2 separate regions of the Homo sapiens genome follow, and region 1 is linked to region 2. Evidence: fine-mapped expression QTL. A gene starts in region 2. The other region holds a variant in brackets. All regions are shown on one strand. Distances are between the middles of the regions. Region 1 overlaps TMOD2 (tropomodulin 2). Region 2 holds the start of TMOD2 (tropomodulin 2).

The links. PIP is the estimated chance that this variant, and not a neighbour inherited with it, causes the effect.
Region 1: its variant is fine-mapped to the expression of TMOD2 in whole blood (TOPMed, PIP 0.98).

The regions. Positions count from the first base shown.
Region 1 is chr15:51,786,466-51,802,315 of GRCh38, forward strand. TMOD2 (tropomodulin 2) reads left to right here. Exons shown (of 10, transcript NM_014548.4): 8 at 11,732-11,875. Among named protein-coding and RNA genes, the nearest start is that of TMOD3, 35 kb to the right of the region's middle. RefSeq lists enhancers at 805-1,305, 8,256-8,425. The variant C/G (reference allele first, on the strand shown) is at 10,104.
Region 2 is chr15:51,743,819-51,759,668 of GRCh38, forward strand. It overlaps TMOD2 (tropomodulin 2), which reads left to right and starts at 7,779. Exons shown (of 10, transcript NM_014548.4): 1 at 7,779-7,894. It also overlaps a transcript of LYSMD2 not described here. RefSeq lists an enhancer at 7,333-7,402 and silencers at 7,513-7,942, 7,993-8,102, 8,133-8,192.

The DNA.
Region 1 (15,850 bases), 43 kb after region 2:
CAATTGGCATCCGTTTAGACATGTCCCCATTTAAGGCTGTTTGGCATTCAATCAGAAAACATATTTTGGGGTTTGTGGTGAACACAAGCCATTTTACAGATGAGGCAACTGAGACTCAAAGAAGTTGAATGCTGAACTAAGATTACACCGCATGTGGCCAAGCCAGGATGCAAATGTAAGTCACCTGTGATTGAGTTTAGTTTACTGTGCCCCAAGCACTTTCATATAACCACATCTATAGCAACTGAGCATTCAAATGGAATTTGTCCCCACTGAATGCCAATGAGAGGGCCCAAATATATTTAAAATGCTACTGTTATTTACAATGATGCCACATAAAAATCAAGAGTTTAGGACAGCACTGTTTATTGGAAATAAAACGTGAGAGGTCACTTCCAAGATGGCCAAATAGGAACAGCTCTAGTCTACAGCTCCCAGTGAGATCGACGCAGAAGATGGGTGTTTCTGCATTTCCAACTGAGGTATCTGGTTCATCTCACTGGGACTGGTTGGACAGTGGGTGCAGCCCATGGAGGGTGAGCTGAAGCAGGGCGGGGCATCACCTCACCCGGGAAGGGGTTGGGGTTGGGGGATTTCCCTTTCCTAGCCAAGAGAAGCCATGAGTGACTGTATCTGGAGGAGCAGTAAACTCCTGCCCAAATACCGCGCTTTTTCCACAGTCTTCACAACCAGCGGACCAGGAGATTCCCTCCTGTGCCTGGCTTGGCAGGTCCCACGCCCACAGAGCCTTCCTTGCTCACTGCTAGCACAGCAGTCTGAGATCCACCTGGGATGCTAGAGCTTGGCGGGGGGAGGGGCATCTGCCATTGCTGAGGCTTGAGTTGGCATTTCTATGCTCACAGTGTAAACAAAGCGGCATGGAAGCTCGAACTGGGCGGGGCCCACCACAGCTCAGGAAGGCCTACTGCCTCTCTAGATTCCACCTCTGGGGGCAGGGCATATCTGAACAAAAGGCAGCAGACAGCTTCTCCAGACTTAAATGTCCCTGCCTGACAGCTCTGAAGAGAGCAGTGCTTCTCCCAGCATGGCGTTCGAGCTCCGATAACGGACAGACTGCCTCTGCAAGTGGGTCCCTGACCCCCGTGTAGCCTGACTGGGAGACACCTCCCAGTAGGGGCCGACAGACACCTCATACAGGTGGGTGTCCCTCTGGGACAAAGCTTCCAGAGGAGGGATCAGACAGCAATATTTGCTCTTCTGCAGCCTCTGCTGGTGATACCCAGGAAAACAGGGTCTGGAGTGGACCTCCAGCAAACTCCAGCAGACGTGCAGCTGAGAGGCCTGTCTGTTAGAAGGAAAACTAACAGAACGGAATAGCATCAACATCAACAGTAAGCACATCCACACCAAAACCCCATCCATAGGTCACCAACATCAAAGACCAAAGGTAGCTAAAACCACAAAGACGGGGAGAAACCAGAGCAGAAAGGCGGAAAATTCCCAAAACCAGAACGCCTCTTCTCCAAAGGAACACAACTGCTCACCAGCAAGGGAACAAAACTGGACAGAGAATGAGTTTGACGAGTTGACAGAAGTAAGCTTCAGAAGGTCGGTAATAACAAACTTCTCTGAGCAAAAGGAGCATGTTCTAATCCATTGCAAGGAAGCTAAAAAGGTTAGACGAATGGCTAAATAGAATAACCAGTGTAGAGAAGAGCTTAAATAACCTGATGGAGCTGAAAACCACAGTACAAGAACTTTGTAACTGAAAACCACAGTACAAGAACTTCGTAAAGCATACACAAGCTTCAATAGCCGATTTGATCAAGTGGAAGAAAGGATATCAGTGATTGAAGTTCAAATTAATGGAGTACAGTCAGAGGACAAGATTAGAGAAAGAAAAGTGAAAAGAAACGAACAAAGCCTCCAAGAAATATGGGAGTATGTGAAAAGACCAAATCTACGTTTGATTGGTGTACCTGAAAGTGACAGGAAGAATGGAACCAAGTTAGAAAATACTCTTCAGGATATTATCCAAGAGAACTTCTGTAACCTAGCAAGGCAGGCCAATTTTCAAATTCAGGAAATACAGAGAACACCACAAAGATACTCCTCGAGAAGAGCAACCCCAAGACACATAATTGTCAGATTCACCAAGGTTGAAATGAAGGAAAAAATGTTAAGGGCAGCCAGAGAGAAAGGTTGGGTTAAGCACAAAGGGAAGTCCATCAGACTAACAGCGGATCTCTCAAGCCAGAAGAGTGGGGGCCAATATTCAACATTCTTAAAGAAAAGAATTTTCAACCCAGAATTTCATATCCAGCCAAACTAAGCTTCATAAGTGGAGGAGAAATAAAATCCTTTACAGACAAGCAAATGCTAAGATATTTTGTCACCACCAGACCTGCCTTACAAGAGCTCCTGAAGGAAGCACTAAACATGGATAGGAACAACCAGTACCAGCCACTGCAAAAACATGCCAAATTGTAAAGACCGTCAACGCTATGAAGAAACTACATCAATTAATGGCAGCAAAATAACCAGCTAGCATCATAATGACAGGATCAAATTCACATATAACAATATTAGCCTTAAATGTAAATGGGCTAAATGCCCCAGTTAAAAGACACAGACTGGCAAATTGGATAAAGAGTCAAGACCCATCAGTGTGCTGTACCCAGGAGACCCATCTCATGTACAAAGACACACATAGGCTCAAAATAAAGGGATGGAGGAAGATCTACCAAGCAAATGGAAAGTAAAAAAAAGCAGGGGTTGCAATCCTGGTCTCTGATAAAACAGACTTTAAACTAACAAAGATCAAAAGAGACAAAGAAGGGCATTACATAATGGTAAAGGGATCAATTCAACAAGAAGAGCTAACTATGCTAAATATATATGCACCCAATACAGGAGCACCCAGATTCATAAAGCAAGTTCTTAGAGACCTACAAAGAGACTTAGACTCCCACACGATAATAATGGGAGACTTTAACACCCCACTGTCAATATTAGACAGATCAATGAGACAGAAAATTAACAAGGATATCCAGGACTTGAACTCAGCTCTGGACCAAGTGGACCTAATAGACATCTGCAGAACTCTCCACCCGAAATCAACAGAATGTACGTTCTTCTCAGCACCACATCGCACTTACTCTAAAACTGACCACATAATTGGAAGTGAAACACTCCTCAGCAAATGTAAAAGAACAGAAATCACAACAAACTGTCTCTCAGACCACAGTGCAACCAAATTAGAACTCAGGATTAAGAACTCACTCAAAACTGCACAACTACGTGGAAACTGAACAACCTGCTCCTAAATGACTACTGGGTAAATAACGAAATGAAGGCAGAAATAAAGATGTCCTTTGAAACCAATGAGAACAAAGACACAGCGTACCAGAATCTCTGGGACACATTTAAAGCAGTGTTTAGAGGGAAATTTATAGCACTAAATGCTCACAAGAGAAAGCAGGAGAAATCTAAAATCGACACCCTAACATCACAATTAAAAGAACTAGAGAAGCAAGAGCAAACATATTCAAAAGCTAGCAGAAAACAAGAAATAACTAAGATCAGAGAAGAACTGAAGGAGATAGAGACACAAAAAACTCTTCAAAAAATCAATGAATCCAGGAGCTGGTTTTTTGAAAAGATCAACAAAATAGACCACTAGCAAGACTAACAAAGAAGAAAAGAGAGAAGAATCAAATAGATGCAATAAAAAATGATAAAGGGGATATCACCACTGATCCCACAGAAATACAAACTATCATCAGAGAATATTATAAACACCTCTACGCAAATTAACTAGAAAATCTAGACAAAATGGATAAATTCCTGGACACATACACCCTCCCAAGACTAAACCAGGAAGAAGTTGAATCTCTGAATAGACCAATAACAGGTCCTGAAATTGAGGTAATAATTAATAGCCTACCAATCAAAAAGAGTCCAGGACCAGACCGATTTACAGCCGAATTCTACCAGAGGTACAAAAAGGAGCTGGTATCATTCCTTCTGAAACTATTCCAAGCAATAGAAAAAGATGGAATTCTCCCTAACTCATTTTATGAGGCTAGCATCATCCTGATACCAAAACCTGGCAGAGACACAACAAAAAAAGAGGATGTTTAAGCCAGTAATGATGAACATTGATGTGAAAATCCTCAATAAAATACTGGCAAACCGAATCCAGCAGCACATCAAAAAGCTTATCCACTATGATCAAGTCGCCTTCATCCCTGGGATGCAAGGGTGGTTCAACATACGCAAATCAATAAACATAATCCATCACATAAACAAAACCAACTACAAAAACCACATGATTATCTCAATAGATGCAGAAAAGGCTTTCAACAAAATTCAACAGCCTTTCATGCTAAAAACTCTCAATCAACTAGGTATTGACGGAACGTATCTCAACATAATAAGAGCTGTTCATGACAAACCCACAGCCAATATTATACTGAATGGGCAAAAACTGGAAGCATTCCCTTTGAAAACCGGCACAAGACAAGGATGCCCTCTCTCACCACTCCTATTCAACATAGTATTAGAAGTTCTGGCCAGGACAATCAGGCAACAGAAAGCAATAAAGGGTATTCAAATAGGAATAGAGGAAGTCAAATTGTCTCTGTTTGCAGATAACATGATTGTATATTTAGAAAACCCCATAGTCTCAGCCCAAAATCTCCTTAAGCTGATAAGCAACTTCAGCAAAGTCTCAGGATATAAAATCAATGTGCAAAAATCACAAACATTTCTATACACCAAGAACAAACAGAGAGCCAAATCATGAGTGAACTCTCATTCACAATTGCTACAAAGAGAATAAAATACCTAGGAATAGAACTTACAAGGGATGTGAAGGACCTCTTTAAGGAGAGCTACAAAACACTGCTCAAGGAAATAAGAGAGAGAGTACACAAACAAATGAAAAAACATTCCATGCTCATGGATAGGAAGAATCAATATCATGAAAATGGCCACACTGCCCAAAGTAATTTGTAGATTCAACACTATCCCCATCCAGCTACTGCTGACTTTCTTCACAGAATTGGAAAAAACTACTTTAAACTTCATATGGAACCAAAAAAGAGCCTGCATAGCCAAGACAATCCTGGGCAAGAAGAACAAAGCTGGAGGCATCACGCTACCTGACTTCAAACTTTACTATAAGGCTACAGTAACCAAAACAGCATGGTACTGGTACCAAAACAGATACATAGACCAATGGAACAGAACGGATGCCTCAGAAATAACACCACACATCTACAACCATCTGATCTTTGACAAACCTGACACACACAAGCAATGGGGAAAAGATTCCCTATTTAATAAATGCTCTTGGGAAAACTGGCTAGCCATATGCAGAAAACTGAAACTGGACCCTTTCCTTACAGCTTATACAAAAATAAACTCAAGATGGATCAGAGACTTAAATGTAAGACCTAGGACCACAAAAATCCTAGAAGAAAACCTGGGCAATACCATTCAGGACATAGGCATGGGCAAAGACTTCATATCTAAAACACCAAAAGCAATGGCAACGCAACAAAAGCCAAAATTGACAAGTGGGATCTAATTAAACTGAAGAGGTTCTGCACAGCAAAAGAAATTATCATCAGAGTGAACAGGCAACCTACAGAATGGGAGAAAAAAATTTGCAATCTATCCATCTGACAAAGGGCTAATATCCAGAATTGACAAGGAACTTAAACAAATTTACAAGAAAAAAGCAAACAATCCCATCAAAAAATGGGCAAAGGATATGAATAGACACTTCTCAAAAGAAGACATTTATGCAGCCAACAGACATATGAAAAAATGCTCATCATCACTGGTCATCAGAGAAATGCAAATCAAAACCACAATGAGATACCATCTCATGCCGGTTAGAATGGCAATCATTAAAAAGTCAGGAAACAACAGATGCTGGAGAGGTTGTGGAAAAATAGGAATGCTTTTACACTGTTGGTGGGAGTATAAATTAGTTCAACCATTGTGGAAGACAGTGTGGCAATTCCTGAAGGATCTAGAACTAGAAATACCATTTGACCTAGCAATCTTAATAACTGGACATATACCCAAAGGATTATAAATCATTCTACTATAAAGACACATGCACACATATGTTTATCGCGGCACTATTCACAATAGTAAAGACTTGGAACCAAGCCAAATGCCCATCAATGATAGACTGGATAAAGAAAATGTAGCACATATACACCATGGAATACTATGCAGCCATAAAAAAGGATTAGTTCATATCCTTTGCAGGGACATGAATGAAGCTGGAAACTATCATTCTCAGCAAACCATCACAAGATCAGAAAACCAAACACCGCATGTTCTCACTCATAAGTGGGAGTTGAACAATGAGAACACATGGACACAGGGAGGGGAATATCACACACCGGGGCCTGTGGAGGGTGGGGTGCTAGGGGAGGGATAACATTAGGAGAAATACCTAATGTAGGTGACAGGTTGATGGGTGCAGCAAACCACCATGGCACGTGTATACCTATGTAACACAACTGCGCATTCTGCACATGTAACCCAGAACTTAAAGTATAAAAAATAAAAAGAAATAAAACATGAGCCACAAATGGAAGCCCCATGTATAAATTTAAATTATTTAGTAGCCACATTAAAAAAAATACATAGTAGACAAAATTAATTTTAGTAGTAAATAGATGCTCCTTGACTTACAATGGGGTTATGTCCAGATAAAACTACTGTAAATTGAAAATCTTTATCTGAACATAGCCTCATCATAAGTCAAGGAGCATACTGAATAAGTATCACTTTCACATCATGGTAAATTCCAAAAATGGAAAGTGGAACCATCGTAAGTCAGGGACTCTCTGTATTGTATTTAAACCAATATATCCAAAATGTAATTTGAAAATATAATGAGGTATTTTGCATTCTTTTTTTCATACTACATCTTTGAAATCCAGTGTGTTTTATGTTTGCAGCACATTTCAAATCAGACTAACCAGTTTTCAAGGGCTCAGTAGCCACATTTCTCATGGCTACCATTTGGCCAGTGCAGAAATTTGCATTTCCATACAATCCTATAAAGTACAGACAGCAAACCCTTCTCTTTAAAGATGTATTTCTACTCTACTTCAATTACATTTAAAACATCTAGTCTTTGTTTTACTAATGTTATTATTCCCAGCACATGTAATATGCTCAAATATTTGCTGAACTGAAGTGAACCTGGGCCTACAGCCCAGTATTGTGTTTGGCTGGCTCGCCCCTGTTTTGTTCAGCACAAGAAAGTGTTTTCTCAAGTTTAAAAGAAATTGGCAAGATCCTGGCAACTCGCCAGGAGGTCCTGCAACTTTCTGTAAAGGCCTAATTGCTCTGACATTTTGTTATTCTAATAATGATAGTAAATCCCAAAGCTTGTAGAGTCCAAAAGGAAAGTCCTGATGCATCCCTCTCTGATGATCAGATTAAAATGTATAGATTTAATTTTAATCAAGGACCTAGCACAGAATAAATGCACTTTAATTTACATGGTATGCGATAGTGTAAATCCAAATTGTTGAGCTTTCTTTGCAGTGCAAGCAACTGCCTGACCAAGATACAGGATTATTCTTCTAGTCCAGTGGTTCTCAACCTAGGGCAATTTTGCCCTCCAGGGGACAATAGGCAGCATCTGGAGATATTTCTGGTTGTCATGATGGGGAGGAGTGCTATTGACATCTAGTGAGTCTCAGAGGCCAGAGATACTACTAAATATCCTTCAATACACAGGACAGCCTCCCACAACAAAGAATTCTTTGGCCCCAAGTGTCAGTCATGCTGAGGTTAAATAACCCTGTTCTCATCCAATATTGGGACTTCTCGTCTTCCTTCTTCCTGTCTTTTCCACTGTAAAAACAATTAAAATAGTTCAGAACTTTTTTGTTCTACTCCCCAGAAGCAATCACTATTAGCAGTTTGTTTTTCATTCTTCTGGTTGTTGTCTTTATGACTTTAATTAAAGTGGTTACTGGCTCATGCCTGTAATCCCAGCACTTTGGGAGGCCGAGGCAGGAGGATCACTTAAAGCCAGGAGTTCGAGACCAGCCTGGGCAACATAGAGAGACCTGTTTCTACACCAAAAAAGAAAAAAGTGGTTGTCAATCCTAACTGCACATTATTCACCTGGAGAGCTCTTCAGAAATGCAGATGGCCATTCCACAGCCTCAGAGATTCCGATTTAATTCATCTGGGGTAAATTTTTTAAAGCTCCCAGACCATTCTAATGTGTGGTCAATGTAGAAAACCAGTAATATACAGAAATTTATATTTTTCATTTATCATCTTAGAAAATTTTTTATTCTCTATTATAAAAGATGAGGGTAGTTCTATACTTAATTTTCCATTCCTCCTTTCTCTTCCACTTCCAAATTGTAGATATTCCATTATTTTCACACATTTGAGCTTTATACATTTTCTGTAATTATATTCTGTGTTTGTATATAGATTGATTCCAAAAATTAACCTATTAGCAGCATTTACAATTATATGACTTATATAAATATAAATCTCCATTCTCATGGGCCTTACAATGTAGTGACTAGTGCTGACCTGATTTTTGATCCTTTGCAGGTAACTTGTTTTTCCTTGCTAGAAATTTTTAGTACTCTCTTTCCTCTTGGAATTCTGAAATTTCACTTGTCTGTTCACTTAAGAGTCATTTTGGTCCGGGTGCGGTGGCTCACACCTGTAATCCCAGCACTTTGGGAGGCCAGGGCTAGTGGATCACCTGAGGTCAGGAGTTCGAGACCAGCCTGGCCAACATGGTGAAACCCCGTCTCTACTACAAGTATATAAAAAAAATTAGCCAGGCGTGGTGGCCCATGCCTGTAGTCCCAGCAACTTGGGAGGCTGGGGCAGGAGAATTGCTTGAACCAGGAGATGGAGGTTACAGTGAGCCGACACAGTGCCACTGCACTCCAGCCTGGGCAACATGTCAAGTGAGACTTTGTCTCAAAAAAAAAAAAAAAAGTTTTTTTTATTCATTCTGCTGAGTGTCTAGTTATTTCCTTCAGATAAAGATCCGTAACTTTCTTCATCTCTGGGAAATTTATTTTTTCTCCTTAATTATTTGATAACTTCTTCTCTTCTGCTTGCTTGCTTGCTTTCTTTCTTTCTTTCTTTCTTTCTTTCTTTCTTTCTTTCTTTCTTTCTTTCTTTCTTTCTCCTTCTGGAACTCTTCTTAGATGAATGTTGAATCTCTGCATCTTTCATCCACATCTCTTAAGGTTTTCTCATAATTTCTATCTTCATCTTTTTGCTGTATATCCTTGGAAATATCCTCAGTGTTATCTTCTAGATCACCAACTTGGTCTTCAGCCATGCTTATTTTGTAATTCTAGATGTCTATTATTTTCTTTTATTTCAATGTAGTTTTTTTAAATGTTCAAAATGTTTTTCTTTTCTCTGTCTCTCTCCGCCGCCCCCCACCCCCCACCCGACTTTTTCTCTCTTTCTTTCTTTTTCTTTTTCTTGTGGGGCAGGGAGGAAAATAATACATAATCAGAATTTTTAAATTTGTGTCTGTTTCTTCTATGGCATATTGACCTGCTTGGTCAACTTTATTCTTTCATGATGTTGGTTTTCTTAAAATGTCTGGCAATTATTGGTTCCCTGTTTATAATGGAGAGCAAGGTTGGTTTGTATAATCCAGGATCATTTCTCCTGCAGTTGTATCTATCTGTTTTACCAACAGACCTCTCCCTTAAAAAGGAGGCCCCTTTATTTTTCTCCATTTGTCACCATCTGATAAGCTATATATTTTATTTATTAATTTATTGACTCTGCCCTCTTGCTCAAATATAAGCCTCTCTGAGGACAAGGATTTTTGTTTTCTCTTACTGCTAGAGCACAGTAGAAGCCTGACAAATAGTCTTTTTTGAATGTATGAGTGAGAGCTTTTTTTCAGCAGCAGGTGTGCTGACCTGCCACCTTCTCTGCAGTGTGTGTATAAGGAGCTCACAGGCAGCCTGAGAGTCCCCTGCAATCGCTACAGTTAGGAGGACTTCATTCTGGGAGGGGCACCTTTCAATGTATAGTAGTCCCCTTATCTGCAGAGGTTTCAGTGGATACCTGAAACCACAGATAGTACCAAA[C/G]CCGATATGTGCTATGTCTTTTCCTATACTACACACCTATAATAATGTTTAATTTTTAAACTAGGCACAGTAAGAGATTAACAGCAATAACTAATAATAGAACAATTATAATAACAATATGCTGTTATAGAAGTTGTGTGAATATGGTCTCTCTCAAATATCTTACTGTACTATCCTCCTCCCTCTTGTGATGATGACATGAGATGGTAAAATGCCTGTATGATGAGATGAAGTGAGGTGAATGACATAGGCAAGGGGACTGCGTTAGGCTACTGTTGCCCTTCTGACCATTTGTCAGAAGGAGGATCATCTACCTCCGGTGATCCTGGCTCATCCAGCCATGACGATGTCAATGGTTGGATGTCAAAAGCAGACAGTGTCATTGGTTCATAGGCAGGGACAGCACGGAGATGCTGGACAAACAGATGATTCACCTCCTGGGCGACATAGACCATAAGATTTCATCATACCACTCAGAACAGCATGCAATTTAAAACTTATGAATTGTTTATTTCTGGGGTTGTCCATTTAACGTTTTCCCACTGAGGTTGACAGCAGGTAACTGAAACCGCAGATTGCAGGGAATACTGTACTTCATTCCTGGCAGAGCTGCCTTTCCCATTTTCCCCCCACACTGTACTGGTGTGAAGGTCTGGAGGCGCCTCTGTTTCCGCACTGCTTCTGTCACAGGTCGCAGCACCTTCACCAGAGGCTCTTCCTGGGAGACTTCATTGATTGTGCTGGCAGCTGCTCTTTTTCCTGGAAGGTGCTGGGAGGGATAGTGTACTCTCCATCTGCCCTAGCTGTTCCATCTGTTCCTAAGGCGGTTCTTTAAGGAATTGCCCCAAATGGGACCTATCTCTAGCAGCTCAGGCAACAACTTGCTTGTGCTAATTTATCTGTGAATCTTTCTATTTTCTGTATTTCAGCAATTCCTCAAGATAATGGCCTTTTGTTTTGTTTTGTTTTCTTGCACTGTGAGAATTCCAGTCTCTTAAAAATTATATTATTTCTTCCTGGTGGTGGGAAACTCTGGGAGTAAAGAGAGCCGGCAGGTGCCCGTGTGCAGTCCGCTGTCTCAAACTGGAGTCTCCCATGGGTTTGCCACCCTCAGTGGTGATTTTGTTCCAAAAGTTATTTTTTAAAAATTCTGATTTATACATGATCTGAAATAATATAACTAAATCACTAGTTTCCAAGTGCTAGTCAATGGTAAAGTTTTTTTTTAATTAATTCATAGTAAAGGAAAAAAACTGGGTTTTCTGGGATTATGTCCTTTCTACCTTTTTTCTAATGTTAAAATGTGTTTTCTCAAAAAAAAAAAAACAGTAGTGGTTTTTTTTTAATGTCTCTACTTAACAAAAAAAATCTGTAATCCTATGTCAGTATCTTTTTTAAAAATAGTTTTTGCAAGTATGTGAAATTTATGTCTAGACTGCTGGACTGAAATATTTTAATTGTGGTTTTAAATTGTATCTTTGTTACTTGGAGGTGAAAGTATGATTTGATGAAGGTTTTCTTTAAGTGCTAGAAAACATCTGTATTTAATTTGGGAGTGAGGGGTTTAGTAAATTAATCTTTAGAAATTCTAACTTAATTCTAAGTTTTTTTTCTTTTTGCATCATAAGGCTTTTGCAGACATGCTGAAAGTAAACAAGACCTTGACAAGTCTAAACATAGAATCCAATTTTATCACTGGAACTGGGATCCTGGCCCTGGTAGAGGCACTGAAAGAAAATGACACCTTGACAGAAATCAAGATTGACAACCAGGTAAGGAAGGCCAGAGAATAGGCAAAGTCAACTCACAGGGTGTGCAGTGAGCGGGGGAAATGCCACAAGGAATGAGTTAAAAGACACAGTTCTGTGTGTGACTCAATTTGATGTACTGGATTTCCTGTAAGTTTTAGAACCATTTCTGGCCCATGGAGGATGTGCAGAAGAGCATGTTACTAATCAAACAATGTACAGTGGGGCAGCCTGGGACATAAAGAGCCATCTATCCCACAACCCTAGGCTAGTCAGGCTCCAGAAGAGAAAGCAAGGAGGTGGTGGCAGAGGTGTTGATAGCTGCTTTATTCAGTCTCATCATTGTTGCCTTTTGGCATGTATCTCTTCCCTGTACTATCCCAGCCTTACTTTTGCTTCTCACTGGGACTGTTGCTAACAGAGAAAGCAGGGTAGCCGTGTCCAAAGATTCAGATTTCTTTTCCTTGGCTGAAGACTTCTAGAACCAAAAGAGCAGATGCAGGCTCCTGCAGTCTGATGCTGGCTGCAGAGAGCCTATTTAAAGGAATCAGGGTTCTAGAAGATGGTCTGGCTTAGAGTAGCAGGCCACACCCATGAGATTGTGGTCTGATCACAGTCTCATTGATCATGACCACAGCATTTCTCAGGTTCCCGTCTGCAGCCAAAGCAAGGTGCTTTTCCCTAGAGCCACCTCTTCCTGCCTGGCGACCTCTTTTTCCCAGCGTCAGCCTGCAGTGCCTTCCGAGTTGCTCTGCTGGCTTCAGCTGACTCCTGCCCACAGACAGCAACTCTCAGTGATCAGCCATGATGTAGAGCCCTGCTCCTCTGGCCATGGGGAAGGGTCTGTGATGGGGTTCCAGACACTATATCTTGAAAAGAAAGGGCCTTGGAAAGGAGAGACCAAGGAGACTTGTGGTATGAGCATTCGTTCCCCTGTGGGATGGTGGGAGAGACAGTTGGGGAAGTGACTGCTCAGAGCATCCTTTGCATGTCTGGGGGCCATCTCTGGGAAAGTTCCTGGTGCAGACCCTCCAAGATCTGATAAAGCCGCAGAGTGCCATCCAGGACTGTTGCCTAACCCTGGAAACCCTCAACAGTTCCTATGGAGGCTCTATTCTCTGTCTTTGCTAACCAGGACAAGCAGACTGTTTTCAGTGCAGGCCCTCTGGCCCTGGACTAATGATGTTTGTTGCCAGGGGAACACAGAAAGCCCACTAGGAGAGAGGAACTTTTACATTCGCATCCTGCCAGAAGGAATGTGCCACCAAAACGGCTTTCCTAGACACAGAGATGTGGAGGCAGCACCCCAGGGGATGTGCCACACAGGGCCCCGCACACTCAGGAAGTTCGATGCTGTGTATCCTAGCATATGTCCAGCTGCTAGTAAATTAGAAAGTGGCATCAGGGTGTGGGGGAGTAAGGAAACAAGCCAGAGAGAAATATGAAGGGAGAGAACAGAAGTGATCACTCAGGGATATTTGTTGAATAGACTCATATCAGGAAGAAGCTAAGTGGGCACTTAGTAAATATTTCCAGGGAAACTAACACAGAAGTGGATACCCTGTTCCAAAGTATATTTAACTTTGTTTACGGATTTAGGCCATTGTGAAACCCCATATCTGAAATAATATCACACACTCTGTCCCTAGTTCCTTACAAGATACCACCTAGCTAAGGTTGCCACATAAAATACAGTTAAATTTGGCTTTCAGATAAATGATGTATAAATTTTAGCATGTGTCATCAAATATATGGGATACCTTATACTATACTAAAAAAATTATTTGTTGTTTATCAGAAAGTCAAACTTAACTGGGTGTCCTGTATTTTTATTTGCTAAACCTGGCAACTCTATGCCTAGTATTGAGTTAGAATTAGCCTAGAATGAGCTAGAATTGTGAAAATTTAGAACAGAGCAGCTTTTGACAATGCATATAAAGAAGACCCTGAAGTACAGCCTGTAATCCCAGCACTTTGGGAGGCCGAGGCGAGCAGATCACCTGAGGTCAGGAATTTGAGACCAGCCTGGCCAACATGATGAAATCCCATATCTGCCAAAAAATCCAGAAATTACCCAGGTGTGGTGGCACATGCCTATAATCCCAGCTACTGGGGAGGCTGAGGCGTGAGAATCACTTGAACCCAGGAGGCAGAGATTGCAGTCAGCCAAGATCATGCCACTGCACTCCAGCCTGGGTGACAGAGCAAGACCGTGTCTCAAAAAAAAAACAAAACCCTGAAGTACAAAGAATTTGCTCCCTAAAATCCCCTCTAAATCAACCTCATCACCCCTCCTCAGCCATCTAGGAATGGATTTGTGTAGTTTTTCAACTTTAGTATTTCATTTTGCTTCTGAAATGGCTTCTCTTTATTTCTTTTTTTTGTTTGTTTTTTGTTTGTTTGTTTTGAGACAAGGTCTCACTCTATGGCCCAGGCTAGAGTACAATGATGCAGTGTGGCCTCACTGCAATCTCCACCTCTCTGGCTCAAGTGATCCTCCCACTTCAGCCTTCTGAGTAACTGGGACTACAGGCACACACTACCATGCCCAGCTAATTTTTAAATTTTTGTAGAGACAGGGTCTCACTATATTTCCCAGGTTGTTCTCAAACTCCTGGGTTCAAGCCATCCTCCTGCCTCAGCCTCTCAAAGTGCTGGGATTACAGACATGAGCCCCACCGCGCCTAGCCTGGCGTCTCTTTATTTGTATACGACAAGGAGGATTAAGATTTTCTAGAGAGGCTGGGTGTGGTGGCTCACACCTGTAATCCCAATGCATTGCAAGAATGAGACAGGAGGATCACCTGAGCCCAGGAATTCCAGGTTGCAGTCAGTTATGGATGTGTCACTGCATTCCACCTTGGACAACAGACCTAGACCCTGTATATTCATTCTCTCTCCCTCTCTCTCTCTCTCTCTCTCACACACACACACACACACACACACACACACACACACACACACACACCCTGTCTCTCTCTCTCTCTCTCTCTCTCTCTAAGAAAAGATTTTCTAGAGGAATTGGAAAAAATTGTTTGCTTTACTTGAGAAATGAGGGAATTCGGGGTCAAAACTTGTCTTGCATCCAAATTGTGTTCATTGACTCATAGACTGTTAGAAGTAACCTCAGTTTCCTTATCTATCTAATGAGGGGTTTGAAATAAAATAATCTGTAAGACAGTTTCCTCAGGCAGAACCAGAAGCCAAGACCAATTTAACAGCACAGCAATGGGCAGCTGCACCAAAGCGAAGGCCTGCTGAGAATCCACCACTGGGGGCAGGCTGCTGTGGCTAGGCTCCAGGTCAATGTGCAGTGATTTAATCAGGTGCCCCCATGGGAAGAACAATCGGTGATGCATATTAAAGAAACAGATGGGGAACTGCTAAATAAATTTGAGTAGATAAAAGAGGTCACTTAGAAAAACACAGAAGGCGATTTGAAGATATGCTTAAACATTTGTTTCTATTTTTCCCCCTTTGTGTTTGGTGACTTAAAATATAAAAAGAGCCTGGGCCTCTAGTCCCAGCTACTTAGGAGGCTGAGGCAGGAGAATCCCTTGAGCCCAGGAGTTCGAGTCCAGCCTGGGCAACATAGCAAGACCTCATCTTTAAAATATATATATAATATAATATAACATAATAAAAGTTATATAATTTAATACACTACATACTTAGATAATTTAAGTATATATAAAGACTGTATATCCAAATTATAAGAAATTTTGATGCCCATCTATTGTCCTGGGTTTATGTAAGACCTCAAATCCAAAAAAAGATGCAGGCTGAGGAAGAAACATAGTGTATGTTACATTAATTCCTCCCCTTTTTTATATGCCCCCCAATTTAATTTTCTTCAGCTTCTAAGTCTTTTATATAGCTATTAGCATCTCCTTCCTCCCCCTCAAAAAAAAATAAAGCTATTATTCTATTATTAATATTTCCTATTTTTGATTCCAGATTATATTAATGGTTTAAGTTAACATAAAAGCAGAGTTGGTG
Region 2 (15,850 bases):
TAGATATTGTATGTATACCTAAGTATTTATTTGTTTCTGTCTGTCTCCTTTTTTCTTTTTTGGTGCTAATGTAAGTGACATTGTGCTTTTAATTTCAAATTCCAATTACAGGAAAGCAGTAGTTTTTTCTGTAATAATCTTGTATCCTACAATCTTGTTATAATCATTTCTTTGTTCCAGAGTTTGGATTTTTTTGTTTTAGGAGGGTTTTGAAGTTTTTTGGACAATTCTTTGGGATTTTCTACATAGATAATCATGTTATCTATGAATAAAGACAGTTTTATTTCTTCCTTCTCAATCCGTATATCCCTTTTCCCCCTTATTGTCTTATTGCATCTGCTAGGACTTCCAATACAATGTTGAATAGAGGGTGGCAGGGGATACCCTTACCTTGTTTCCAATCTTGGGGGAAAAGCATCTAGCTTCTCACCATTAAATATAATGTTGACTGTAGAGTTTTTCATAGATGTTCTTTATCAAATTGAGGAAGTACCCCTCTGTTCTCAGTTTGCTGAGGACTTTTTAGTATGAATGGATGTTGAACTATGTCAAAAGTTTTTTCTGCATCTATTGATATAATCATATGACTTTTTTCCTCTTTAGCCTGTTGATGTGATAGATTATATTAATTAATTTTTTTGAATGTTGAACCAGCCTTGTTTACCTGGAATTAATCCTACTTGGTTGTGGTGTATAATTCTTTTTATAAAATGTTGGATTCAATTTTTTAATATTTTGTTGAGGACTTTTACATGTGTATTCATGAGAGATATTGGCCTATAATTTTCTTTTCTTGTAATATTTTTGTCTAGTTTTGATATTGGAGCAAAACTGGCATTATAGAATTAGTTAAGAAGTGTTTCCTCTGCTTCTGTTTTCTGAAAGAGGTTGTGGAGAATTAGTATCATTCTTCCTTAAATGTTTGGTAGAATTCACCAGCTAAACCATCTGAGTTATGATAAATGAAACAGAGACTAGAAAAACAATCAAGGAAGTCAACAAATCCAAAAGTGTATTCTTTGAAAAGATCGACAAAATTGACAAACCTTTACCTAGTCTGACCAAGAAAAAAAAGAGAAGATTCAAATTCTAAAATCAGAAATAAAAAAGGGGATATTACTACTGATCTTAGAGAAATAAAAAGAATAATAAAGAATGTTATGAACAACTGTGTGACAACAAATTAGATAACTTAAATAAAGTGAATGAATTCCTAGAAAGACATGAACTAACAAAACTGACTCAAGAAGAAATACACAATCTGAATAGACATAGGACAAGCAAACACTGAATTTGTCATTTTTAAACCTCCAACAAAGAAAAGCCAAGACCTAGATAGCTTCATTGGTGATTTATACCAAACATTTAAAGAAAAACTAATATTAATCTTTTGCAAACACTTCCAAAAAAATAGAACACTTTCTAACTCATTTTATAGTGCCAGTATTACCTTAGTACCAAAACCAAAGACATAACAAGAAAAAAAAACTACAGACTAATATTTCTTATGAATGTAGACACAAAAATTCTCAACAAAATACTAGCAAGCTAAACCTTGCAACATGTAGAAAGATTATATACCATGACCAACTGGGATTTATCCCAGGAATTAATGGTAAATTTAACACCTGAAAATCAATGTATTACAATATATTAACAGAATAAAGGGAAAAACAACCCACAGGACCCTCTCAACAGACACAGAAAAAGTCTTTGATGAAATCCAGCACCCTTTTGTTATAAGAACATTCAACAAAGTGGGAATAAACAGGAACTCCCTCAAACTAGCAAGGGATGTTTACCAGTGAACACCATCCAGAAAGTTAAAAACACACACCACACACACACACACACAATGGGAGAAAACATTTGCAAATCGCATATCTAATAAGGCACTTGTGTCTAGAACATATAAAGAACTTTTATAAATCAATAGCAATAAAACAAATAGTCCAACTGAAAAATAAAGTAGGCAAAGGATTTGAATAGACATTTCTCCAAAGAAGATATAAAATGGCAAGTAAGCACATGAAAAAATGTTCAACATCATTAGTCATTAGGGAAATCATTAAAATCACAATGAGATACCACTGCATATTAACTAGGATGGCTATAATTTTAAAAAGACATTAACGAGTGTTAGCAAGGATGTGGAGAAATTGGAATTTTCACCCATTGCTGGTTAGAATGTAAAATGGTGCAGATACTTTGGAAAACAGTTTGGTGGTCCCTCAATATGCTTCATATAAAGTTACCATATGACACAGTAATTGCACTCCTAGATATATACCCAAGAGAAATAAAAATATATCTGTACAAAAATTTGTATATGAGTGTGCATAGCAACATTATTCATAACAGCAAAACTGTGGAAGCAGTCTAAATGTCCATCCACTGATGAACAGATAAACAAAATGTGGTCTATCCATGCAATGAATTCTATTTGGCCATAAAAAAGAATAAAGTACTAATGTGTATTACAACATGGATGAACCCTAAAAATATTATAATTAGGGAAAGAAGCCAGTCATAAAAGACAACATGTTGTATGATTCCATTTACGTGAAATATCCAGAATAAGCAAATCTAGAGAAGACAAAAAATAAATTTGTGATTGCCAGAGTCTGGGTGTGTAGGGGGAATGAGGAATGAGTGCTAACATGTCTGTGGTTTCTTCTGAAGTTTTGAAAACGTTCTAAAGTTATAATAGATTGGGAGATAGTTACACAACTCTGTGAATATACTAAAAACCATTGAACTGTGCATTTTAAAAAGGTGAATTTATGATATGTGAAATATGTCTTAACAAAACTGTATTTAGAGAGAGAGAAAGAGAGAGAATGGTTTAATAAAGCTCCAACACTCAGCTTCAACCATTATCAACTCATGGCCAATCATTTCATCTATACCCCACCCCACCACTCTACCCCGTCTCCCACACTCGATAATTTTTAAAGTAAATTCCTGATATTATTTCTTCTGTAAATAATCAGTTTATCGCTCCAAAAAGTAAGGACTCTTCAAAAAAATAATCATGATACTGTTGTCACATCAAAAAATTTTTTAAAATAACACCTTAGTCCAGGCATGGTGGCTCATGCCCGTAATCCCAACACTTCGAGAAGCCAAGGCAGGCAGATCACTTGAGGTCAGGTGTTCGTGACCAGCCTAGCCAACATGGTGAAACCCTGTCTCTACTAAAAAAAAAAAAAAAAAAAAAAAAATACGAAAATTAGCCGGGCTTGGTGGCACACGCCTGTAGTCCCAGCTACTTGGGAGGCTTAGACATGAGAATTGCTTGAACCCGGGAGGCAGAGGTTGCAGTGAGCCGAGATCACGCCATTGCACTCCAGCCTGGGTAACAGAGTAAGACTCTGTCTCAAAACCAACAACAACAACAACAACAACAAAAACTGTAATGCCAGCACTTTGGGAGGCTGAGGCAGGCGGATCACTTGAGGTCAGGAGTTTGAGACTAGCCTGACCAACATGGAGAAACCCCATCTCTACTAAAAATACAAAATTAGCCAGGCGTGGTGGCGCATGCCTGTAATCCCAGCTACCTGGGAGGCTAAGGCAGGAGAATCGCTTGAACCCAGGGGGTGGAGGCTGTGGTGAGCCGAGATCACGCCATTGCACTCCAGCCTGGGCAACAAGAGCAAATCTCTGTCTCAAAATAATAATAATAATTTTAGAAAACAGACCTTAATATAATCAAATATTCTGTGTTCACATTTTCCCTAATTGTCTCATTAATGTGAATTTTTAACAGCTGCTTTCTCAAATTAAGATCACACATTACATTTTGTTATTTGTCTCTTGAATTTCTGTGTATCTATAAGCTTTCTCTCCTTTTATTTTTCTTGCAATTTATTTATTGAAGAATCAGTTGTTTGTCATGTAGAGCTTCCTATATTTTGGATTTTGCTGATTGCATCACTGTGGTATCATTTAACATGATCATGATTACATAGTAATTAGCTTTTAGATGTTTGCTGTCAATTATACTACACATACGATTTAATTCATAATTCATCAACATAGTCACTGCTCCTTTAGTCTTTATCATCCACCATATCCTTTGAAGCATCTTTGACACAAATTATCTCAGTTAGTCTTTCTAATAACCCCATGTGGTAAGTATTATTATCCTCAGTTTAAGAGATGAAGAAGGCCGGGCCCGGTGGCTCACGCCTGTGATCCCAGCACTTTGGGAGGCCGAGGCAGGTGGATCACAAGGTCAGGAGATCGACACCATCCTGGTCAACATGGTGAAACCCCGTCTCTACTAAAATACAAAGAATTAGGCGGGTGTAGTGGCAGCACCTGTAGTCCCAGCTACTCAGGAGGCTGAGGCAGGGGAATCGCTTGAACCCAGAGGTTGCAGTGAGCCAAGATCGCACCACTGCACTCCAGCCTGGTGACAGAACAAGACTCCGTCTCAAAAAAAAAAAAAAAAAAAAAAAAAAAGATGAAGAAAATGAGGCTTAAGGGAGGTTACAGAAACTTGGCCATAGTCATTGTGCCAGTAAATATCTGGGTTCAAACTCTCTGATGTTAAAACCCATGTTGTTATCTGTTATATGATAATATCCCATCACATTGCCTGTGGTTTGTGGTGGTTGTTTTTAATCAACTCTAGGAAGCAGTCTTTCAGTCCATCCAAAGAATGTACTTTCACATTTCATCTTTAACACTTAGGATGCTTTCAGCTTCAAGTAACAGAAAACTCCATCTCAAATTGACTCAACAATAAGGTTATTTATTATCTCATATAACAAGAAATCCAGAAGAAGGGCAGCACTGGGGCTGGTTGATGACTGACTCAACAACAATATGGCCGACCCAGATTCATCGTATCTCTTTACAATGGCCAGAACTGGGTCACATGTCCACTCCTAAACTCTTACAGGCCAGTTAAGAGGATTCTATTCCTCTTGTCTATGATAGATTTGAGAGTGTACCTCTCAGAGGCTAATAGGGTCACCTTTCCTAATGTGTAAACACCCATATAGGCTTCTATAAAGAAGAAGAGGGTGGACTGAATGTTTAATAGACAACCAACAGTGTCTACTACCTGTTCCTAATGAGGTGTGCTACATATTCCACTGTGAATAATTAAAATACTTCATTATAACTGCCACGTTGAACTTTTTTCCTTTCTGCCATTTGACAATTACAGTCAATATATCAGCTTCCTCATTTACAGGAAGAAATGGCTACACAAAATGATATGTAAGGTCCCTTCCAGCTCCAGGAGTTCTGTTTCAATTTTACATTTTCATCTTCTAAAAAGCAAGTAGAAAAGTTAAACTTACAAGATATGGTCCAGAAATGATCATGGGTTTCAACTGATAAGTCATAGGCATATTGACATCCTTTCTTCCTTAAGATAAGACATAGGCAATAGATTTAAAGAGCTAAACAGACTGGAACTGGTAATATCTTTCCATTAAGTTTTAACATTAGGTTAAATGTTCTACTTCCCTCACTCATCCTTTAACACCTTCCAGCTTCCAACACTCATCATACAGACAGAGACTGATCAGAAGTTTCTTTTCACAACTCACTTTATTTTGGTGTCAGCATCCTCCTGGAGCATGGCTCTGGGGCTGTAGGATAGCTCTTGTATCTCTGCTTCGACTGCCGAACATGACTTTAACTTAAATCATTCCCCTGTCTGCTTCCTTTCATGGCTAGTTTCTGAAGGAATACTCTATTCGTTTTATCACATGCAGCCATTTTCCTCGTGCAGAACCACGGGAAACCAAAGAGAAATACTGTACACTACTGAGCACCTTTGCTACTCTTTCTTCCAATATGAATGAAATTGCTTTATTATTTTCAGCATATGCCTACTATCAGCTTTCTCTGGGAAAACTGCTGGCTCGATCCGTAAGCAGCCCTGTTCTTATTTAACAGAAGGCTATGACTGTAACAAATGTACAACATAAAAAAGTCAAAGGCATCCTGTCGGTTACACAGGACATTCGGAATAACAAATGTACAGGAAAACTTGGGAACATGACTTAAAGTAATTTGGTCACACCCCCATTTCATTTAACTCTTTCTGGCTCAGATTTGTCATTCTGACAGGAGGCCCAAGATATAGTCCATTACCACAATTGATCATAGAAACAACACTGGTCTCTCAGTCAGCAGCCACTGCGTGCCAGTGTTCATCATGCTAGTTCCCAGAGTTTTAGAGGATTAACTTTACTTTCTGGTTCAACCCATCTGCTGGGGAAGGTATGGCCCTATTTTGCAATGTGCAAAAGGGAGACAGTGCTGGGGGTGCCCACAGTGGAAGGAGAGAAGACAGGCTTACTGAACACCCCTATGACCTTGAATAAGTCACATCACCTCTCTGTGCCTCTTATTAACTATCATTGGGGAAAAATACCTTCACTCTGCCTGTCTCACAAGGGTTCTTGTAAAAATCAAATGAGAACACAAATAGGAAAGTATTTTCATAAATGCAAACCAGTGTTATCATTTTCAGATGTGGAATTTCCTCTGCAGCACGTTTTTTTGGCCACACGATTACTGCACACCTCGTGCCAGACAGACTATAAAGCTGTTTCACCTCTTTTCACATTTTGCCTAAAATTTCATATAGAGATTACACCAGCCATGCTGCATCCATCCCTTTGGTTCATTTTCCTCCACTACATCTGTGAATGCAAATCCCACCATCATGTGAAACACTGCATAGCAGCAACTTGCAAAACTCAACGAACCTTAGACTGCCAAGATAAGTCCCATAAGCAAAGGTTATGCTCAAAATATGCTGCAAAAGTTCAAGAAGGAGAGAGATATCACATCTAATTAGAAAAGGCCTCTGGAAGTTAAATCTAGATGCCATGTATTTTCATAATGTTGGTCTTTGTCCTATGTCACCCCACTCTGCTGTCATGCTTCAGAAACTTGACTTTATTTTCTCTATCTTTGGAGCTCTCAAGAACCTGGCAGACAGAACATCTCAGGGTATATTCAGGGATGAAGTGAACGGGCTCAACGACTAACAAACCCAGTGGATTTTAACATTTACCCAGCCCAACGAGGTCCAACTATCTTTAGGTTAGCACGACATATAGGACTTTCCCGGCCCAAGAACTCCCTCGGAAACCCCAAGGAAGGAACTTTCACTGAGTATGCACTAAGTGCCAGATCCTAAGTGCTATGGGTCGCTTAATCCTCACAACACTTTTTCAAGCTTGAAGCCTGTTTTACAGATGAGGACGCGAAGGCTCAGACAGGCTAAGTTGTCCGGTCTCACCTCAGTGAAGCCGCCACTGCGCTTGGGCTCTCCAGCCCCTCACGCCATCACCCTAGAGCCTTGCTAACTTCCACCTCGCTTACCTCCTTCCCTCCCTAGGCTGCCAACCCAACTACTCTCTCCTCCCACGCCCACGCCCAGCCAGGAAAACCTGGGGCGGGCGGGGTCTGTACCTGAGACCGCTCTCAACGCGGCTTCCGTGTCAGGATGCTCGCTCACAGGAATGCTCATCACAGGCTTGAAAGCCTTTGCCATCCACGCTCTCCGGAGCCCCGAGCGTCTCCAAAGAGCCTGCCCAGGCTTCTCCCCGACCCAGGTGCTTCCTCCCCTGCAGAGCTGTGGCGGGGTTCAGACCCCGATTCCGGGAGAGGACACCTGTCGGGGAAGGGCGGGGCTGGGGGACTGCGGGGCCGCGGCGAGGCTCAGCCGGGAACTACGCTTCCCAGCCTGCTCCGCTGCAGCCGCGCGCCCCGGCGCCGCGCCCGGCCGGGAGCCGCCTGTTGATCGCCGCGCTCGCCCCGGCCACGGCGCCGCCCCTGTTCTCCCGGCCCCGCTCCACCGGGGCTGACGGACTGACGGCCAGCACAGCCGGCTCCGGGATGAGCGCACGGACGGGTGAGCGCCCCGGGGGGCGGGTGGGGCCTGTTCTGGACAGCCGGTGTCTGCAGCCCCCGGGCCCGCAGCGCGGTGGCCGCCGTGCCCTCCCTGCCCGCGGGAGGATGCTCCGCGACATGGGCGGTCGGCCGGGCGGGCGTGCAGAGCCGGGCCGCCTCTCGCCTCTCGCCTCCCGGCCCGGTCGGCTGCGCCGGGAGACCAGGCGCTGCGCCCGGGCGGGAGGCGCCCGCCGGGGTGTGAGTCCCGCGCCCCGCACTGCGGTGCCGCAGCCTCTGCAGCCCGCTGGGCCGCAGCGGGGAGGGCGCGGTCTCCTGTCCTCCCGGGCTGCGGGGCTGTGTTCTTCCACTCCGGGCTTTGTTCCCCCACTTTTCCCCTTCCTGTGCATGTTTGGTGAGCTCCTGGAGCGGTATGCATCTCCCTGCCTCGTTCAGCAGGCGATGGGGAGGGGTGGACTGGCCGGCGTCTTTCCTGAGATCGCTGGAGCTGTCACTCGCAGGGCGTTTCAGCCTCCCAGTAAGCGGCCTCGTGCGGATCCTCGAGAACCTTATTATTATTGTTATTACTTTTCTGGTTAAAGTAATTGTAGTATGTGCTCCCTTGAGGCTTCCTAAATGTTCCCTGTTGACCTGCGGAAATGAAGGTGGATTTTTAAAACAGTAATAAAAGGCTTCTAATGGGAATTTTTAGAGTATTCAGAGGTAGGAAGGTGATGCCGTCACAATGCAAATTAGCAGTGAAGGAGGCCGTGCTTACTGCAGCTTCGTCTGTGCCCATTACATATCTGAATCACGAGGCATTTAGGACGGGAATGAAAAGAAGATCGGGGGAGGTGTTTTAAAAACCAGGTTCTCCTCTTAGCTTGACCATTCAGGAGCTGAGGGACCTGGGCAAGTCCCTCCACCTCTCTGGGCCTCTGCATGTAAAGGGGCGTTTGGGCTAAATGATTTGTAAACCTCTGTTCTTCCAAGATTCTCCCCTCTCAGGGAACTGAAAAGATGAGAGTGTTTCTGTTTAACAGCACTACAAAAAGCCTAATTGTGACAACAAGCGCCTCTACCCTAGTGAGGAGGAAAGATTTTTCAGAGCTTCAGCAATCTGATTTTTTTTTAAAGATAAAACTGATTTTCTCGATCGACTCTCTTCAGTCTAACCCAATAAATACGCATTGCAATCATTTTAATTTTTGTAAGGTACTGTACATTGGTGGGCAACAAAATGATGGGGTTTGTTTTTGTCTTTAATTTGCTGAAGGTGAAGTGATGGGATCAGCAGATAAAGGATTAGTGGCTCCCTAGGGCTGGGCACGAGTGGTCAAATGTGGTCAGCATGGAGGTCGGGGAGGAAGCCCCAGCAAGAAGTAACCAGAATGTGTATACACAGAAAAGAGAAGTTGCGTACTGATGGATCATTGTTTGAAAAAGAAATATGCAATAGAAGGAATGAGAGAATCAGGAACTCGGCGCTCTGCAAACCTAACATAACAGTTGAATAAGGCAAGGACTTACCAACTGGTCCAAAACCTTTGAGTGAAAGGTGGTTGGGGAATAGGATTTTCATATTATTTCAAAGTATCTCACCACAGTTTACTCTGGGAAAATTTGTCCTTACAATGGAGAAATTAGGAGGTCACCACTGGAACCAAATGACCAAGTTTAGCAGCATCTACTGCGAGTCTCCCGTTGTGAAGCAATAAGGAGGCATAATTTCACCTCTGTAGTGTTCCTGCAAAAAGACTTGGCGATGGGGCAGAGCAAATGGGAGCAACTATTGTAGGTTAAAATACTCAAGTGATACAATAGTGAATTGGGATGTGTGAACTTTGAATCCTAGATGCAAAAAAAAAAGCTATAAAAGACAATTTGGAGATAGTTGGGGATGTTTGAATATGGATTGCATGTTAGATGATATTATGGAATTGGTGTTAATTTTCTTAGGTGCAATAATAGTTCATTCTTGTGGTTACCTAGACCAGACAATCCTTATTCTTTGGAGATGTGGATATTGGAGGTGAAGTGTCATGACATCTGCAACTTTCAGCTGTGTCAGAAAAAAAAAAAAAAGGATAGGGGTAGCAGAACAAGTTCAGGAACGTAGCAAATGTGGCAGAATGATGACGGTTGGTGAATCAAGAAGAAAACAAATGTTTATTGTACTATTCTTTTAACTTTTCTATAGATTTGAACTTTAAGAAATGGGGAAGTCAATAAAATAAATAAGCGAATAAAGAGAAAGTGTTGTAGAAGACGGGGGTGGTTCGTGACAAACAGCTGCAGTGAATCTGTGGGGAATTTCTTGGCTTCACCTTCCCAAAATTGAAATCACCTATTGGAGGTGTGAGTGGGGGGGACGGGGGGTTGGTGTTCCCATTTTTGGTTTATCTTGGCTACTCTCAATCATTTATGCTTAAGTACCCCATCCTCTAGCTTCAACTTCAAAGTATTAGTAATTCTCCATACCTAAGAAATTCTAGCCCTACCCAAGAACCATCCCGAAAGTGCTGTCCCTTTCCTCTCTGTGTCCGAGATCTGTGTCAGTGTGTAAGGAAGTTTGAGAACATAGGCAGTGGTTCATTTTATTTTGGGTTAGGGTAGTGTTGGGGGAAAAATGATTTAGCTTTGTGATAGGATAGAAGTTTTGGGGTTTCCTCTCATTCCCTTGTGTGTAAATCATATACAACCAAATGTTTTCCTTATAGACTTTAAGTGGTTCAAAGAGGTTCATAGAAGGCATGTGCAGAAGAGACTTCCTGTTACCAGACCACGAAAACAGAATCAACTCTTACAACACTTAATCTCTTACACGGAATCCCTTGCTGCAAAGATATTTTTGCTTTACCTGGATTATATGTGTTTATGTATACATGAAAATACTAATTTAAAGTATACATATTTACTTGCATGAATGTCTGTGTGTACTTGTGAATCTCTCAGTCAGTATTCCCCAAAATACATAGAATGTTAATGGGTTACAAGAAAAAGAAATTGCCTAGCCAGATGTGGAAAACACTAAACAAAGCTGGACAAGTTGGTTTATTCTTGACTTTTCAGAGCCTTTCATGGGTTAATGATCATTGTATATGGGGATGTAAATGGGGTGGGAATGTCCATAGGATGTGATATGTAATGTTTCCCAAACTGTGTGCAAAAATAAAAAATGAAAAATATCTTGAGGGGCTATCGTTACATGGAACCACCTTTGAGAAACTGCCTTTAATGCATTTTTGAGTGAAAGGTCAGGACATATGATTAAATGTGTAAGTTGTAAGTATTTGTGCTTCACATTACTTACAGATTAGAATTCAAATTTCAGTTTCTGGTTTTAATGGATCATAACAGTTTGACCCCAGTCTACTTTTTCATCCTAAATTTCCTAACTTTCTTCCTATAAATTCTCCTGCTTAGTCCTTTGTTGTATACTATGAACCATTTTTATTTTCAGCACACCAAAAAGTCAATTCTACGTAACTTTAAGGCTTCGTGGTTGTGTAAAATGAGATGCGCTCTTCTGCTATGGCTCTTCCATGGACTGAAATAGCCACCTTTCCTCCCAAAGCCATTTTGAGTTCCTTGGCCTTGGTCCCATGTTTCAGCACAACCTTCCTTAAAGCTGTGATTTCTTGCTATTTCTGCTTTTATGATTTGCCATCCTGTTTTGGCATCAAGGCTGCCCCACTAATTACCTCTTTCACATGTGTCATCACTATTCCTAGGTTCCCCTGGTGAGAGCTAGGTAGGGTGGGGATGAGAAAGTCAACTCCAGGACTGTGAGTGGCAGGAGCTCACAAAATAGGGCACAAGGCCAGCCATGCCAAGCCTGGACATGAGGAGAAAGGAGACAAGCTGGGGCACAAGCCCTAAGAAAGGACCAGGAGGTCCCTCATCAGAGTGGTTAGAGGAGTGTGGAGTCCAGTGAGCTGGGCTGCTATTCAAGCGGTGTGCATGGGGACAACTGTCCTCATTGTTGATAAACAACCATTCTGACTGGGCAGTGTCCCTTCTATACCAGTTGCTAAATGTTTTGCACATCATCTAGGTAAGCACTCACAAGTCAGGGTGCATACAGCATCCATAAGTCATTACAAAACCTGGATCAAAACCTAGCTGGTATAAAATGCCAAAGAAAGAGACAAGATGAGTGAGTCAAAGACCACATAAGCAAGCAGAAGAAAGGAGGGCACATGAATCAAAGGACAAAAAGCAGGAAACCCGGTGCCAATCAGGAAGTTAGAAGAAGCCCATAAGTTCCCAAAGGCAAGAGGAAGGACATGGTTAAAAGCAACAGGCAGTTAAAACCCAGAAAGGCGCAGATCTCCAAGTGGAAGGCAAGGAGATAAATAGAGGTCAAGCAAGAGGAACTCCTCTAAAAACAGAAAAGAAGGCCAAACACAGGGACAAGACAACAGCGGGAAATAGGACCCGCCATGAGAATTAGAAACCAAGAGGCAGGCTGGGCAGACAGCAAGACTTTTTGGCTTTTTGACTGCTTCCTACCCAGGTGGAAATCTATCTCATAGCTTGGCTAGCTTACACTATGGTGGCTTTCTACACCTGGCAATGCTGACCCGCAGCTCTTACAGGTTTTGCCTCTTTATATTCAGCAGATCTTGATGGGGAAAACAGAGGGAAAGAACACCTAAAACACGAGATTATTCCACAACCAAGGACGAAAGAGAAATAGCTTTGACTGAGGGCTTGCGCTTGCTAGACACTGCGCCTAATATGTACATGGTCACCTTAAGTGTCACCTCAGCCTTCTGAGATAAGTACTGTTCTTTGCATGTTTTACTGAGGAAGGACCAGAAGTTTGGAGAGGTTGTCACTGCACACATATCTGCACCATCAGACCTTGGGTTGGTTAACTCCAAGGCCCGTGCTTTTAGTCTTCTGTGTTCTTCTAACCTTGGACAGGAGCAGTCACTAGTGGGCACCTTGTTTTTCAAGTATGATTTAATCTTTGGCAAGTTTGTGTTGTAAGATTGGGAAATACGAGCTCTGCATTCTAGTAAGATCTGTTCCTCTTTCCTCTTTCAGCTTGTTCCTTCCCATTGCCGTACCATATTTCAGACTGAGACTTCTCCTTATCCCGCCTCATTCTGTCCTTCATCCTCTGCAAGTATTTCCCAGAATATATAGAAGTCTTTTAGTTGTTTAAAATAAAACAAACTTAATTGGCCCATCTTCAAATAGCTACATTACAAAACAGGCGGTTGCTGTGTTATATTTGCCCAGCAGCCAGAAATGAATTAAATATCTAAGATCAATTCATGTTTTGTTGGAGGATACATTGATATGCAGATTCTGTTCTAATTTACTAGTTTTAGAAAATGTGGATTTGGTTCTGGTGCAAATCGGTGCACTAATTGTTTAAAATTATGAAATATTGAAGACATATTAAAAAGAATAAAGAGGGCTGAGCGTGGTGGCTCACGCCTGTAATCCCAGCACTTTGGGATGCCAAGGCAGGTGGATCACCTGTGATCAGGAGCTCGAGACCAGCCTGGCCAACATGGTGAAACCCCGTCTCTACTAAAAATACAAAAATTAGCTGGGCGTGGTGGCGGGCACCTGTAGTCCCAGCTTCTCGGGAGGCTGAGGCAGGAGAATGGCGTGAACCCGGGAGGCAGAGCTTGCAGTGAACGGAGATCGCACCACTGCACTCCAGCCTGGGCGACACAGCCAGACTCCGTCTCAAAAAAAAAAAAAAAAAAAAAAAGCCATACTCCTTATTTTCCTTCCCAAGGCTTGTATATTTGGATAATAGGAAGAGTTATTTAAGGGCCCAAGTCATGCTTCCATCAGCTCAAGTCTTTAATCCTATTTTCTGTTTTCCTAACTGGCTCCTGTACTTGCCCACCAGGACTCCTGGAAGCCTTGTTAGGCATTTGCTTCACTCCAGCATGTACATTAGCATCATATTGCATGTTAAATGCTTGCCATGGGACAGACACACCACTGGAGGGGAGGCTGTAGCAGTGCTTGCTAACTTCCCACGGCAGCATTGCTAACAGGACGGAAGACAAATGGGAGCCCTTGGGCAGCCTTGGTGGGGGCAAAAGCAGACCAGCCATGAGCTGGAAAAGCTTTGATTTGACTTTAAAAGCTATGAGAATACTGCATTCTTCTCCACAGTATTTCTATATTTGCTTTTTAAAAATACAGCCTGGGCAATGTAGCGAGACCCTGTCTCTACAAAAAATTTAAAAACTAGCTGAGTATAGTGGGACATACCTGTAGTCTCAGCTGGGGTCAAAGGAGGTGGGGGGAATACTGAGGCAAGAGGTTCACTTAAGCTCAGGAGTACAAGGCTGCAGTGAGCTATGATCACATCATTGCACTCCAGCCTGGGGAACAGAGTGAGACCCTATTTCTAATAATAATAATAATAATAATAATAACTAGCTTTTCCCCAAATCTTCAGATCAAAGTTGTGCTCCAGGAGGATGCAAGTTTTTTTTTTCTCCTCTGACTTTGAGATCCCCTGGTACATTGACACAACATAGGCAATTTGTTTTAACAGCTACTGTTACATAGTATGAACATGTTATTTTAATTAATTAATGTATTTTCCTACTGAAGTATGACATGGCACTTATTTTCTGGGAGTTTGTAGTGTAGCTGGAGAGAGAACCATACATGCAACATACATGAAAAGATAGCAAGATATGTCAAATTGGTGATGTAGGCATACAAATTTAGAGGAAGGGGCAACTTCTGTGGGCTTAGATGATCTCAGAAAGCTCCATCACAGGGAGAGGAAGCAGTGGATAGAGTGGAATGAGCTCTGGACCTGCGGGTTCATTTGAACTCATTTCTTTCACATGACATTTGTTACACAATATTTATTGGATACCTACTTCAGATCAAGAACTGTGCTGGGAGTCAGGATTTTATCAGTGAATAAAACTCATACAGTCCCCCTCCCTCACAGAGATTAGCAAGGAAAATAGAGATAAAGCAAGTAGTTGTAATAAAGCCAAGAACAGATGTGATTAAAGGGGTAGCATGGAGATGGGGAGTGACCCAGACCTTGTCTCCAGGTCCAAACAAGGCTTCCCTGAAGAAGTGAAGCTTGCATGAGACCAGGGGATGAGTAGGATAGCAGTCAGCCAGAGGGGAGTGGGGTGAGAGTGTTCTGAGCAGAGAGAACAACATAAGGCATGATCCAGGCATTGGAATTGGGCCAGGAGGCTGGAGCCAGGAGGAGATGGGGAGTGCAGCACAGGATGAGGCTGACGAAGATGACAGAAGACAGACTGAATTTGAACCTTATCCTCAAGGCAGCAGAAGCCACTGGAGGATTTTAAGTAACTAGAGAAGAGTTGTTTAACTCTGTGCTCACTTTGGCCATTTGTATGGCGAATGGATCAGGAAGGGATAGGGTTGAATGTGGACAATGCAGATGAGTGAAGTGGGTGGATTCTCAACACGTTTAGGTAAGGACAGGATTTGGTGATTGATGGCTGGAAAAGAGACGAGAGAGAGAAGATGTTAAGGATGGCTCCCTGGTTTTTCGGCCAATTTCCTGAAATGGGAGATTCTGGAGGAGGAAAGATGATGAGAGCACTTCTGACATATTTGAGGTGTCTGAGGCAGCCAAGGAGAGATGTGAATTAGGCAGATGGAAATATAGGGGCCTAACCCTCAGGAAAAAAGTCTAGGATGAAGATACAGATTTTGGAATCTCCTGGATATATATTATAATTAAAATTTTGGAGGCAGATGAGTTCCTCCAGAGAGAATATGTAGTATGGAAATAGAAGAATTTATAAGATGAGACCTTGAAGAATGCCAGTATTTAAGGTGGAGGAAGAAGAATTGCTAAAAGAGACCAAAAAGAAATGGTCAGAGAAATAGAAGAAAAACCATCTATGTTGCTGGATTGAGCAATCTTTAAGGACTCTTTCAGCTCTGACATTCTGTGGTCCTGCAGAACTGGGATCTGAGCCAGGTCTCAAGA